Linked DNA regions of Homo sapiens: regions 1, 2 and 3 are each reported to be linked to region 4. Evidence: microRNA targets listed by miRTarBase, many of them from high-throughput screens and not tested one by one. Region 4 holds a microRNA gene; each other region holds the end of a gene's coding sequence.

Evidence for each region. Region 4 holds the annotated microRNA hsa-miR-6715b-3p (CUCAAACCGGCUGUGCCUGUGG, at 1,189-1,210, shown strand). A microRNA usually pairs through its seed, bases 2 to 8, with sites in the 3' UTR of a target mRNA and lowers its output. Matches are read on the target gene's strand: a 7mer-m8 pairs with bases 2 to 8, a 7mer-A1 pairs with bases 2 to 7 and ends in A, and an 8mer does both.
Region 1: the mRNA of NDNF is a reported target of hsa-miR-6715b-3p. The part of its 3' UTR that is shown has no 7-base or 8-base seed match.
Region 2: miRTarBase lists OMA1 as a target of hsa-miR-6715b-3p. Seed matches in the 3' UTR shown: 7mer-A1 at 2,681-2,687.
Region 3: the mRNA of GCM1 is a reported target of hsa-miR-6715b-3p. Seed matches in the 3' UTR shown: 7mer-m8 at 2,601-2,607 and 7mer-A1 at 1,716-1,722.

The regions. Positions count from the first base shown.
Region 1 is chr4:121,033,545-121,036,728 of GRCh38, reverse strand. NDNF (neuron derived neurotrophic factor) reads left to right here. Exons shown (of 4, transcript NM_024574.4): 4 at 1-1,116. The coding sequence ends at 465. Among named protein-coding and RNA genes, the nearest start is that of NDNF-AS1, 36 kb to the left of the region's middle.
Region 2 is chr1:58,478,201-58,481,372 of GRCh38, forward strand. It overlaps OMA1 (OMA1 zinc metallopeptidase), which reads right to left. Exons shown (of 9, transcript NM_145243.5): 9 at 2,519-2,974. The coding sequence ends at 2,765. It also overlaps a transcript of DAB1 not described here. Among named protein-coding and RNA genes, the nearest start is that of OMA1, 67 kb to the right of the region's middle.
Region 3 is chr6:53,125,346-53,128,529 of GRCh38, forward strand. It overlaps GCM1 (glial cells missing transcription factor 1), which reads right to left. Exons shown (of 6, transcript NM_003643.4): 6 at 1,616-3,184. The coding sequence ends at 2,861. Among named protein-coding and RNA genes, the nearest start is that of GCM1, 22 kb to the right of the region's middle.
Region 4 is chr10:112,297,648-112,300,831 of GRCh38, reverse strand. MIR6715B (microRNA 6715b) reads left to right here and starts at 1,144; the gene lies at 1,144-1,220. It overlaps TECTB (tectorin beta), which reads right to left. Exons shown (of 11, transcript NM_058222.3): 8 at 2,601-2,763; 9 at 1,268-1,340. MIR6715A (microRNA 6715a) reads right to left here and starts at 1,220; the gene lies at 1,142-1,220.

The DNA of each region.
Region 1 (3,184 bases), not on the chromosome of region 4:
GCTAAATACCTCGTTCGACTGAAAGGAAACAAGAAAGGAGCATCTATGTTGAAAATTCTAGCTACCACAAGGCCTACTAAGCAGTCATTTCCCTCTCTTCCTGAAGACACAAGAATCAAAGCCTTTGACAAGCTCCGTACCTGTTCCTCAGCCACCGTGGCTTGGCTAGGCACTCAGGAAAGGAACAAGTTTTGCATCTACAAAAAAGAAGTGGATGATAACTACAATGAAGACCAGAAGAAAAGAGAGCAAAACCAATGTCTAGGACCAGATATAAGGAAGAAGTCAGAAAAGGTCCTCTGTAAATATTTCCACAGTCAAAACCTGCAGAAAGCAGTGACCACAGAAACAATTAAAGGTCTTCAGCCTGGCAAATCTTACCTGCTGGATGTTTATGTCATAGGACATGGGGGGCACTCTGTAAAGTATCAGAGTAAGGTTGTGAAAACTAGAAAGTTCTGTTAGTTACCTTCTTATAGAGATATATTATGTAGAACTCCAGGAGGGACATTAAATCACTTTAAGTATAAACTGACTACTCCCACAGTTGAGAGAAGTTGTGACCTGTACTTGTACTATGGAAGGAAGGATATCAACGTGTGTATATTGATGTTTATATAAGTAACTCTTGAAGGAGACTTGTTCTAGCGTGCCCCATGGTACCTAGTGTGTGTCTGATGCCGGTTGGTGTCAAAGATAGAGGGCTTCTTGAAGGAACTTGCCATTCCTTGCTTTGACCACTGCATGAACTGCTTCTAAATTATTTTATTACCTAAAAATTTAAAATATGCCATTCATTGCACACACCCACAAATGCAAATCATTCCTCTCTGTAGATGCTAGGATATATATAAATTATTTTATAAATTCTTGTTTTAAATGTCAGTGTTTCTATGATTGTAAACTATTAAATTCTTTTCCTATTAAAGTACAGATCTAATCTAAGTATTATTAAGTTGATAGCCCTCTAGTCAGTTATATTGCTATTGTAAATTCTTGTTTGTTGAGTAAAATGTTTAAATACTATATGTATCTCATGTACAAAGTTGACATACATTATATTCATGTACATAAAATTAAAGAGATTAGATTATATACTGTTCATTTTCCCAAGCAGCTACCTTGGTGTATTCAATTTCTAATCTGTCCTCAAAACTGCACCTTCTGTAGTTTGGCACCAAAACAGACCCTTTTTTAATAATTAAAAAGGGATGCCCCATCTCTCTAAAGTTACTATGGCATTAGAAATAGTTATTAAAATTTGTACTTTTGACGTTGAATGGGAGCCAGCTGTTAGGAGAGTTAAGAGAGCTACAATAGACTTGTTTTAAAAGAATAGGACAAGCCAAACACTAACTCGACAAGTATTCAACAAATTGTCCTTAATAACCTAAAATATATCACTTTATAAGCATTTATTTTAAGTACAAAATTGAGATATTTCAAGCATTTTCCATCTGTTTGAATCTTAGCAAAATAGTTAATAATTATTTTAATCTCTAGCTGATGCAACTTAACAAACACCAATCAGGACTTTTATTAGTAAGAAGAAAACTAGGAAAGCTGTTGTTTTATAACATTAATGGTCTGCTACTTTTAACTTTGATTTTTCATGGATTTTTTAAAAGTAATTTCAAGTGTAAGAGACAATTTAGGCAAATCATAACATATTTTATCAGAGACTGTGCACAAAGGGCACTTTTAGGTAGCTTCATTCTCCACAGGTTCTATACATAAATCATGAGGTGTTACGAGAATATTGGTCCAGGAATCAGAAAAGTGTGGAATTTACAATCACCTAAAGCAATATGACTTTAAGAAAATCTGTTACCTCCCATCATCTCCCTTTCCCATCTGTTAACATTTGGTGGTGATAGATTTAGATGAGTTGACATTGTTAGATACTTTCTATTATAAGAGGTTGTCTTTGGTAGAATTCTATGATTCTAAAGTGCTGTGACTACAAGTGTGGACAGGTGTAATCACTTTACCTCTACACTGCCCGCTGCATGCTGACACTGCCTTTCATATGGTGGGCATTCAACAGCAACATTCCTGTGGAGTATAGATGGCTATGACTAAGGTAGTGTAAGTGGTGGTCCTTATAAAATATGCTCTGCTTGCCTTAGGGGAAAATAGTTCCTTAAAAACGTTCTCATCCAACTCCTCAGTGTTAAGATATCTAAACAAAAGTGACCACATCTATACACAACAGTAATGACACCTGAAAGAATTTTTTAACAGATAAAGAACAGTACTCCCATGGTTATGTAACCAACCAACTAGGAAGGAGAGACTTTAAAATTGACAACATCCCAGAGATGTTATATCCTAAGTTATGAATGTGCTGCCGTTGAAGAAAAATCAGCTTTCTCATATTACTCACATATATATATTATTACATAACAATGTGTTAAATTGGACTACAGTGAATCAAAGAGTTATTGCAGCTTCTGAAGGTGACAGACTTTTAACTTTCAGATATTGCTTAATGCCTGGGAAACCCTGGGAACCACGCCAAGTCAATTTAACCAAGCTTTTGCTTTTTAGCCAGCTGTGATGGTGGTTTCTACATAGTCTGGATAAATCCAAGAATACTTTCATGGCCCTAGTGAAATTTGCCTTTTTGAAATTATTAGGAAAACGAAATACACATTATGAAACTTCTATCACTCCTAAAGAAAGGGGAAAACCTATTAAAAATGAAGCTCTTATTTACTAATGCATTTCTATTTCAGGAGCATTTGGCTAAACTGGGGACAAAAAACAAAAACTTGTTCTTAATTAACAAAAGAACTAGAAAGAAGCTCATATGAAAGCACCACCTTGTGTTCAGTAAGCTTCAGGATAGCTCTGTTGACAGCAGGGCATTTAGAGAGTCCCAAGTATAGTCATGTATCACTGGGGAGGGAAGAATCTTTGAGGACATCTAGTTTACAATCTTTATTATTTTTCAGGTGTAGAAAAGAGATTAAAGATCATAGAAGTCAGAATAAATTTGTAAAAGTTCTCATAGTCAAAACAGCTAAGTAATGGCATTGCCCAGACTCCAAAATCCTGACCAGAATATAAATCACCAATTGTTGGTTTAAAGGGGTTATTTGTGAATCATTTTCCAAAAAAAGAAGTACACTTTTTGTGTTACTTACCATTTCAAAGAAACTTATTCTTCAAGACCATTTCA
Region 2 (3,172 bases), not on the chromosome of region 4:
CCTGCTCTTACTCACTCTCTCTTGCCTGCCACCACGTGAGACATGCCTCTTACCCTTCCGCCATGATTGTGAGATTCCTGAAGCCTCCCCAGCCATGTAGAACTGTGAGTCAATTAAATCCCTTTTCTTTATAAATTACCTAGTCTCGGGTATGTCTTTATAGCAGTGTGAAAATGGACTAATAGTACAAAGTATGCATTCAGTATATGGTAACAATTTTTATTACATTTGCAGCTCTAGACTTTGTGTTAAATGCTTTAAGTATATCATTTCACTTGGTCATTGGTCAACCTAGGAGGATTTTTTTTGTCCCCATTTTACAATTAAGAAATGAGGGTTAGAGAGTTTGCATGACTTGTCCAGGGTTCCACAACTACAGAAGCAGATTTTACAGAGTATGATTGTTTCTCCTTTTTTTCAATCCTTTGAACAGATAATTATTGTACAGTGTCAATGTTAATTGAATGCCTATAATGTGCAAAGCATTATAAGTATATAGCAGTAAATATACACACTGTCCTTTAGTTTTAGAGGATAGTCTCACCCTATCTGAATTATAGAAAAGATCGGGTTGAGTTTGTGCCTTGGATTTATTAGCATCATGCTCCTAACAACTAAGTTAACCAGCCTATCATCTAAATCCTATAGGCACATGAAAAGTATTGACAGGAACAAAGTAGTTCTGCAACTAAGTGTAGAACATACAGCTTATTTCCATATAAAATTTAAAGTATATATATACATCTTGTATTTCAACTGCTATTTAATTTCTTCTAAAGCATTGAGCTGAACTGTAACATTTCTTTTACATTTAATTCCACTGGTTAAAAAAAATCTTTTTCATATACTATAAAGATATTATCTCTGCTCTTTCTGACATGGTGTCAACTTATATATGTTTCTAGCAAGTATGAACAACACAATTAGAAGTGACAATGGGAATGGAAGAAAAAGTAGGCCGTTGCTACATTATTTTCCTAGGAAATCTGCAGGAAAATCTAATGCTGTGTTTTACTGTTTACCTTTAGGTGACATTCTCCAAGTGTCTTTATATGTTATGGAGTGCCTTTTACAATACTCCAATCACAAGGAGTGTAAAAAATGATTATATGGAGAATAGTTAATATGAACCTCTTCATGACCAATGTTGTCTCGTGTGCAGATCAGGAAATTCCTTACAAGTAATGTATAATAATCCCTGAGAAACATAAACAGCCTCTGAACTTATCTTCTTAACAACTAGATATTTTGTCCAAGAAGATTTAATAATGTCAGGACACATCCCAAATGAGATTTCACAGGCTTTCACAGGCAGGGGGAGAGGTTCTACTCTCCTACACTGCCTCATCTATGCTTTTCATGTCAATTTTGATAGAAGGGTCTGAGAGAAGAACCTATAAAATCAACCTACAGAAAACACAAGTGGTCCCTGATTTCATAATGATGAGATTTTTACTTATATTGAAGCCATATGTGGGGAAGCTAATGAACAACTGAGAATACTTTGTTCCTTGTCTTGATAGCTTAGTCTTAGATATCTGAGAGTTGTAAAAAAATGGACAGATTTGTAGTCAGATAGACTCAGCTTTGTTCTATCTAGGTGAGAGATATTGGATATATTATGTAACTTCTCGAAGCCTATTTGTCATTGTAAAGTGAGAATAATAAAACCTAGTAGGGTTATGGAATAAAGATAAATATAGGGCCCAGTTCATAGTAGATTCACAATACAAAGTAGTCCCTTTCCTCTTTAATTCTCTAAGAAAATATTTATTTAATATAATGTATTTCAAGAAAAATGCCCTTCTTAGAAATATAACCTAAGCATCACTAGACTTCACTAGTTTGGGAATACAAATATTAAATAACTCGTATTTCCACATTTATATAATGCAGCAATTTCTGGGCACCACTGGGGGTATGTCTTGTGCTGCTTCTCTTGTCGTTTTCCTCCAGTCGTCTTGTTGATATCTGCTGCTCAGGAAGGTCAACTTGGGGACAGTGCCTTGCCTCAGCCTCTTTTGAGGGACAGTGCCTTGCCTTTGCCTCTTTTTCTTCTCTGGGAACCCGAGATTCCCAAATGGTAATCTCATGGAGCAACCAAATGACATAAACTTCTGTTAAGATTTCAGTGCACCAGGAACACGCTGTATCTCTGTGGAAATGCCCTCTCCCCCAATTCTGTTTCTTGCTTTGTCATCTGAACCACAAACTGTACTTCTTTTGCCTCCCTATGAAAATGGCTTCTGCCAGTAGCATTTTCTCCAGTCATCCACAGGTGAAGACAAGGAAATTCTCTATCCTGAGGCCCCCTTTTCCACATAATCCCACCCCAATGCAAACTATTTCCTGCAAACAGATACCTTCAGACTGTTTCCCCCTTCATCATAACGACCCAGACTTAGAAATCCAGTTTAGGCTCAGTTGAAACATTCTCTACTATAAAAACTACCGTATGGGCTCATTTCTCATCCACTAGGGGTCTGCCTTCTAAATCAAAAGCAAGTAGAAGACAGAGTAAAATGTGTAATATAAATTTATTCTGTGACATTTTCCTCATTGAAGATATTTTAACATAGATTAAAATACATCAATATTTCATGAAAAATAAATTCTAGAAGAATTTAGATAATATCTGTAATGTACATGATTTGACCCTGAATATCCTTTTTTTTTTCACTTCAAACATCATTTTTTAAAAAGTAACATAAAATGATAAGGACTGCAACATTCTTCATATATCTTGTGTCTCATAAATTTTAATTCAACTGCCCGTTCTTTTCTCAACTATGTATGTTAATGGTATTTGCTCCTGTTTTTGAATAGGAAGAGTATCCATTTTCTGTTTCTTCGTGATATTTAGGTCTTCTTTCTCTGATTCTTCAAGAAAATGCTTCGTGCTGAGTTTGAATAGTAATCGAGGGTCTGGATTAGACAGTGGTGGACAATTACACATCTCTCTAATTTTGAGAGCCTATAAAGAAATAATAAAATAAAAAAATACTATATATATACATCAATGTATTCAGATTGTTTCAGTAATCCCTAATATGCTCCATGTAAAACAAAGAATGTATTGTTATTTTTTTAATAAAAGGTATCTTGATTATAACACATAAAAGAGAACCACTGAAAAATCTACAGTGAACAGTTGTTTTCATGATTTGGTCAA
Region 3 (3,184 bases), not on the chromosome of region 4:
TCTTGCTTCAGCCTCCCGAGTAGCTGGGACTACAGGTGCACACCACCACACCCAGCTAATTTTTAAAATATTTTTTAGAGTCTTGCTATGTTACCCAGGCTGGTCTCAAACTCCTAGGCTCAAGCGATCCTCACACCTCGGCCTCCCAAGGTGCTGGAATTAGAGGCATGAGCCATCATGCCTGGCTAAGATTATAGTTTTTGAAAGTGAGAAAAGGTTTGGAATAACAGGATGCCTAGTCTGGTGGAGGTAAAATGTTTGCAATACCCAGAAAGCTTTGGACCAACAGGAGCTAAAGTTTCCTTCAGACAGTTACTGTTTATTTAGCTCTTTCATTTCATTTAGAGTGAGAATAAAGAAATGTATTACAGCAATGAAAATAACAAATTACAGCTACCCTCTTATGGATACAATGTTGAGCAGAAAAGGCAAGATCATAAAAAAATGTACACTAACTAGATGATAGCTAGACTGGTGTGTTCTTATGACAATTGAGCTCTATGCTATGAGCTGTGGATTCTTCTATATGTACATTACACTTCAATTAATTCTTTAAAGTATACCATATGATTCTATTTGTTAGGCTCCCCAAAAAGACCACACGAAACTATAGTTTAGGGATACATACAAAGGTAGTAAAAATGTAAAGAGCCAGTCTAGTGATCACCTTTGGGATACAGGGAGAGGGTTGTGGATGGGATTGAAATCCACAGTAAGGGGAACTTCTGCAGTGCCAGTAGATCCTATTTCTTGGTCCAGATAGTGTTTACACAAGTATTCACTTTACAATTCTGCTAAACTGAATATATAAGGTTTTTATTGATTGATTGATTGAGACTCTGTCATCCAGGCTGGAATGCAGTGGCACAATCATGGCTCACTGATTTGATAAGCATCGACCTCCCTGACTCAAGTGATCCTCCTGCCTCCAAAGTAGCTGAGACTACAGGTCCAAGTAGCTGAGACTACAGGTATGCATGATGACATCCAGCTAATTTTTAATTTTTGGTAGAGACGGGGTCCCGCTATGTTGCCCAGGCTGGTCTTGAACTCCTGGGCTCAAGTGATCCACCCGCCTTTGCCTCCAAAAGTGCTGGGGTTACACGTGTGAGCCACCATGCCTGGCCAATATATAAGTTTTATATATAGTCTTGTCACTTAGACAAATGAATTTAGAAGATTTGAACAAATCTAAATGTTTATCAATAGGGACTATTTAATTATAATAGTCATGTAATGCATAATGCATCATTAAAAATGAAGCAGCTGTGATCCTATATGCTTATAAGAACTTAATGCTCAAATTGGCTCCTAAAACGACAAAAACTATGTTAGAAATGAATCTGATATGATACCACTTATGTCATCTCTCTCTTATATATATATATAAATATATTTTATATATAAAAGATATGTGTGTATTTTATGTAATGTATTTCATACACATTACATATAATTATATATATGCAGAGAACATTTCTAATATCTGGAATAATAGACAAGAAACTAGTCAGTGTTGCAGAGGGGAGACTAGAACTAGGAGACTTCTTTTTTTTCACTTTTGAATTTTGTATCATGTGCATCTGTTACTATTCTAATAAAGGAGAAGGAATAATTTATTTCAAAAATACTTGTTTATTGCATGGTTCTCTCCAGATTTTATGTCTAGGCTTACTTTTATCATAAAGTACTTCAGCAAAGAAGAGAAACTGGCATTCAAACATGGCCGGCCAATCATTGCCAGGCTAATTGCACAAGAGCTTCTCCAAGCAAATATTTCTCACCTATTACAAACCCCACATTGATATAGGTGCCACAAATAATAAATGGGATAAAACAGAAGCCCCTGTGCAAGGGGAAGTCAGTGAGGAAGAGGGAAGGAAACAAGAGGCAAGGAGACCACGCACATCACTAGTGTTTCTCTTCATATGGCAATTTAACATTGCTGTTCTTTGTCTTTATGAAAAATGGGGTTAGGTCAGGTTCCTTGTCATCACAAGTCTCAGAAATCATCTAGAAAACATATATTTTACACACTAGTCTCACAACTAGACAACATATTCAGTACTTCAGTGGTAGAATCTTCAGCTTTTCACACCTTAGGCAGTTCTTCCACCATCTATTTCTGTTTCTTCATTCTCAGTTCCCAAGAAGGCATAGATCAGGTCCTAGATAGGTTAGCATTTCACATGTCTACTCCATTTCATTTGCAACAATGACAATGAAAACCCAGCATGCAATGTGGCTGAGGTGCTGGGAACCCCAAACAATGTGGGGGAAAAAGCAGAGGGCACTTCACACCCCAGACGGGACAGGTTTCCATTCCTTACTGAGGGTGGAAATACTAGAGTGGAGGAGAAGAAGCCAAAAAAATTACTCATGTGAAGAAAAAAGCCTTGTCAGCCGGGCACAATGGCTCACGCCTGTAATCCCAGCACTTTGGGATGGTGAGGTGGGCAGATCACTTGAGATCAGGAGTTTGAGAGCAGCCTGACCAACATGGCAAAACCCTGTCTCTACTAAAAATAGAAAAATTAGCCAGGCGCAGTGGCAGGTGCCTGTAATCCCAGCTACTCGGGAGGCTGACGCAGGAGAATCACTCAAACCCGGGAGGCAGAGGTTGCAGTGAGCCGAGATGGCGCCACTGCATTCCTGCCTGGGCAAAAGAGCAAGACTCTGTCTCAAAAAAAAAAAAAAAAAAAAAAAAAGAAGGAAAAAAGAAAAAGAAAAAAGCCTTGTCTACTGCTTATCATGATTCTCATTTATCTGTGGTTATGTTTTAAAAATTATTTCCTAAGGAAATTCTTTCAGCCCTTCCCCATTTTTGAGGGGCTGGGGTGCACATAGTGAAAGATTTGGGTCATCTCAAAGGACACAGGTTCAGAAGCATATCATTGTTGCAGTGATCCAAACCCAAGTATGTCATTTCTTCCTCAAAATCCCATTTGCTGCTCTTGCTTGGCAGTGAATATTGCTGATGAGGATGAGAGGCGTAGGTGAAGAGAAAGGGGTCTTCTTGAGGTGAATGGTATGCAGGAGACTGGACGTAGCTGTTAAAATCCACATGTACTTTCTCTTCATAAAGATTACCCGCTGGATTTGGCCATAATGGGGGACAGCCAGTTTTGGCTGCAGGTGGCTCCAATGGAAGCTGCTGGTAAAAGGGTTCTGAAGAGTTTTGGGA
Region 4 (3,184 bases):
TCCCTTATCCAAAATGCTTGGGACCAGAAGTGTTTCAGATTTCAGATTTTTTTTTGGATTTTGGAATCTTTGCATTATACTAGTTGAGCATCCCTAACTGGAAAACCTGGAATCTGAAATCTAAAATGCTACAATGAGCATTTCCTGTGAGCATGACCTTTGAGCATCATGTGGGTGCTCAAAAAGTTTCAGATTTGGGAGCATTCGGATTTTGGATTTTCACATTAGTGATGATCAACTGTGCAACCATGGCACCAGCCCACTGTCACCCTCCTTAACAGTAATTTCTCTTTCCCTTAGTGTCTAACATCTCTCTCCTTGCTAGACAGTAAATCCCTTGAGGACAGGGCCTGCTTGGGTCACATTTATTTCTGAAATCCTAGTGCCCTGCCAGGCCAGGCAGTGCTGGATACTCAGTAAAGGTTTTTTGACTTGCACATGACATTCTCATGACATCTCATTTTTCCTTCCTTCCTTCCTTCCTTCTTTCTTTTCTTTTCTTTTTTCTTTCTCTTTCTTTCTTTCTTTCTTTCTTTCTTTCTTTCTTTCTTTTCTTTCTTTCTTTCTTTCTTTCTTTCTTTCTTTCTTTCTTTCTTTCTTTATTTCTTTCTGTCTGTCTGTCTGTCTCTCTTTCTTTCTTCTTTTTCTTTCTTTCTTTTTTTTTTTTTTGAGACGGAGTTTCGCTCTTGTTGCCCAGGCTGGAGTACAATGGCGCGATCTCAGCTCACTGCAACCTCTGCCTCCCAGATTCAAGTGATTCTCCTGCCTTAGCCTCCCGAGTAGTTGGGATTACAGGCGTGCCCCACCAAGCCCAGGTAATTTTGTATTTTTAGTAGAGGTGGGGTTTCACCATGTTGGTCAGGCTGGTCTCAAACTCCTGACCTCAAGTGATCTGCCCACCTCGGCCTCCCAAAGTGCTGGGATTACAGGCGTGAGCCACCGAGCCCGGCCCCATGACATCTCATTTTCTATTATTATTGTTCACTGCATGCTCTGTTTGGAAGCTCAGCACTTCCTGATTCTTTGGGGGTATTTGAATTTAGGGTGCAGTTAGAACTTTCAGAGTAGATAACAAACCTCAACTCCTTCGTTTGGCTTGAGCTGTTCCCCACCCCTGGCTGGAAGACTCCAGGAGCAGGTGAAGGTTGTGCCCACAGGCACGACTGGTTTGGCAATTCAGTAAAAATGCTCAAACCGGCTGTGCCTGTGGACGCAGCCCAGCGTGAACTCAACCGTTTGGAAAACAGAGGAAAACAGAGACGCTTACTCCGCAGGGAGAGCTCCACGACCAGGACTCCCCCGGTCTGGTCTCGCAGGAGGCGCTTCCGTTTATCGCAGGTCTGAAGACCCAGAGAGGCAGACAGGAGAGAAGCGGGGAAGGTGGGATGATGCGTGAGCAAAGGGGAGAAAAGAGAAAGAAAAGATATTTTAAAAAGGTCACAAATGGGGTGGAGTCACAATTCCCCAGTCAACAGAGATGAGTTACCTTTTTAAAAAATAACCCAGAAGACACACTGTTCATCCCTTCTCCAACTTGAATACAAAGAGAAAGCTTTACTTTGTTAACTCTTCAAGCCAGAGGGAATCCTTCTGGAAGAGGTCATTGAGTGTGGAAGGGATTGATCCCATTTCCTTTGATAAGGCTTCTACTTACCACTCTCACCACAATAATTAGAGAAGTGGACACTTGCAATTGTATTCTGGTTCATTTTCTTTTCTTTCTTTTTAAAAATATGGCATTGATACTTATCCTTTGATCAACTGTACAGTGTCTCTCCCCTCCTCTCCCTGGCTCTGCACTCTCTGGTTTCTTTCCCTTTTGCTGTTTGTGCTCATAAAGAACCATTTTCTGGCCAAATGAAACAACAGCAATAGAGATTATGACCTTATTTTTGTTGGTTACTATAGGCTATGTGGATAGCAGCCTCTTTGGAAACACCGAGGTCTCCAGTTGAAAGAGACCAGAAAGGAGAACAGTTTGAGATTTGGCATGTCTAAGTGTCTAAGTGGTGGTTCTCAGGCTTGAGTGAGCACCGGCATGACTGCTGGCTTGTTAAAGCACAGCCTGCCCAGGCCTTCCTCTCACGTGGTCAAATCAGCCATGATCCAGTGTCGGGAATTTCTGCAGCATCTCTCTGAAGTCACAGAGGTGAACCCTCGGGCTGTTCAGTCAAGACTAAAAACACCCACCTTTTGAGTTATTTCCACGGCCTGTCCCTGCCACCTAGACCTTGAATTTCCCTTGCCCTTTTCACTTCTTCCAAGTATTTCCAAGTCTGTTATCACTTTCATTTACCTACACTGCCCTCTGATGAGGGAAGGGCCATCATTACTTAACACACTTTGCTTAAGGATGAGAAAGCAGGTCCCAGCAGGTTAGGCGACACATGCCAGACCATGTGGGTTGTTGGAGGCAGGGCAGATAGGGCCCTGAGCATCTGCCCTCACGAGCATCTGCCCTTATACTCAGTGCCATTTCCTCCAGATGTCCTCAGCACACAGCTGCCCTGGCCTGGTTATGATCTCCCCACTCAAACTCCAGCTCCTCCAATACTGGCACCCTTTAGGTAACATTGTCCTTCTGGAGAGAGGCAGCTCACCACTGGGCAGGAGAGTTTCTCACTGTCGCAGATGAACGTCTCACAGTGTAACCACACCTTGGAGAGTTTGGGGATGTTCTGGAACCGGAAAGCATTGAATTGGAAGGTTGCCCTGTGATCTCTCCCATTCTCATGCACGAGGACGGTTTCATCCGTGGGGCAGCTGAGGCAGATGGGGAAAGAAGAGTGAACTGTCATCTCCTTGAACTCCAGCAAGAGCTGCTGAGCGATTTACACACAAGGCTCCCGAGGTGGTTATATGACCTCTAACCTTCCCAGGCATTTTGATTAGCAGCACCTCACTTGATCTTCACAACTGTGAGGTCAAGTTGATGAGCTAGGAGATGGGTATTACTGTCCTCATTCTATAGACAAGGTACGATGGGAGGGGAGTGACTTATAAGAGTCACACTTTTAGTAAGTTACACCTGTGTCCCAAAGAAAGAAAATCCCTAGGAGATAAGGCCCTCCGAGGACTGGAATATGTCCAGCCCTTGAGGGACATACAAAGTAAGGACAATGGCACCAGGTGCAGCATTGCCCCTGCTGCCACAGCTGCCTAAGCTCAAGTCACACCCAACACA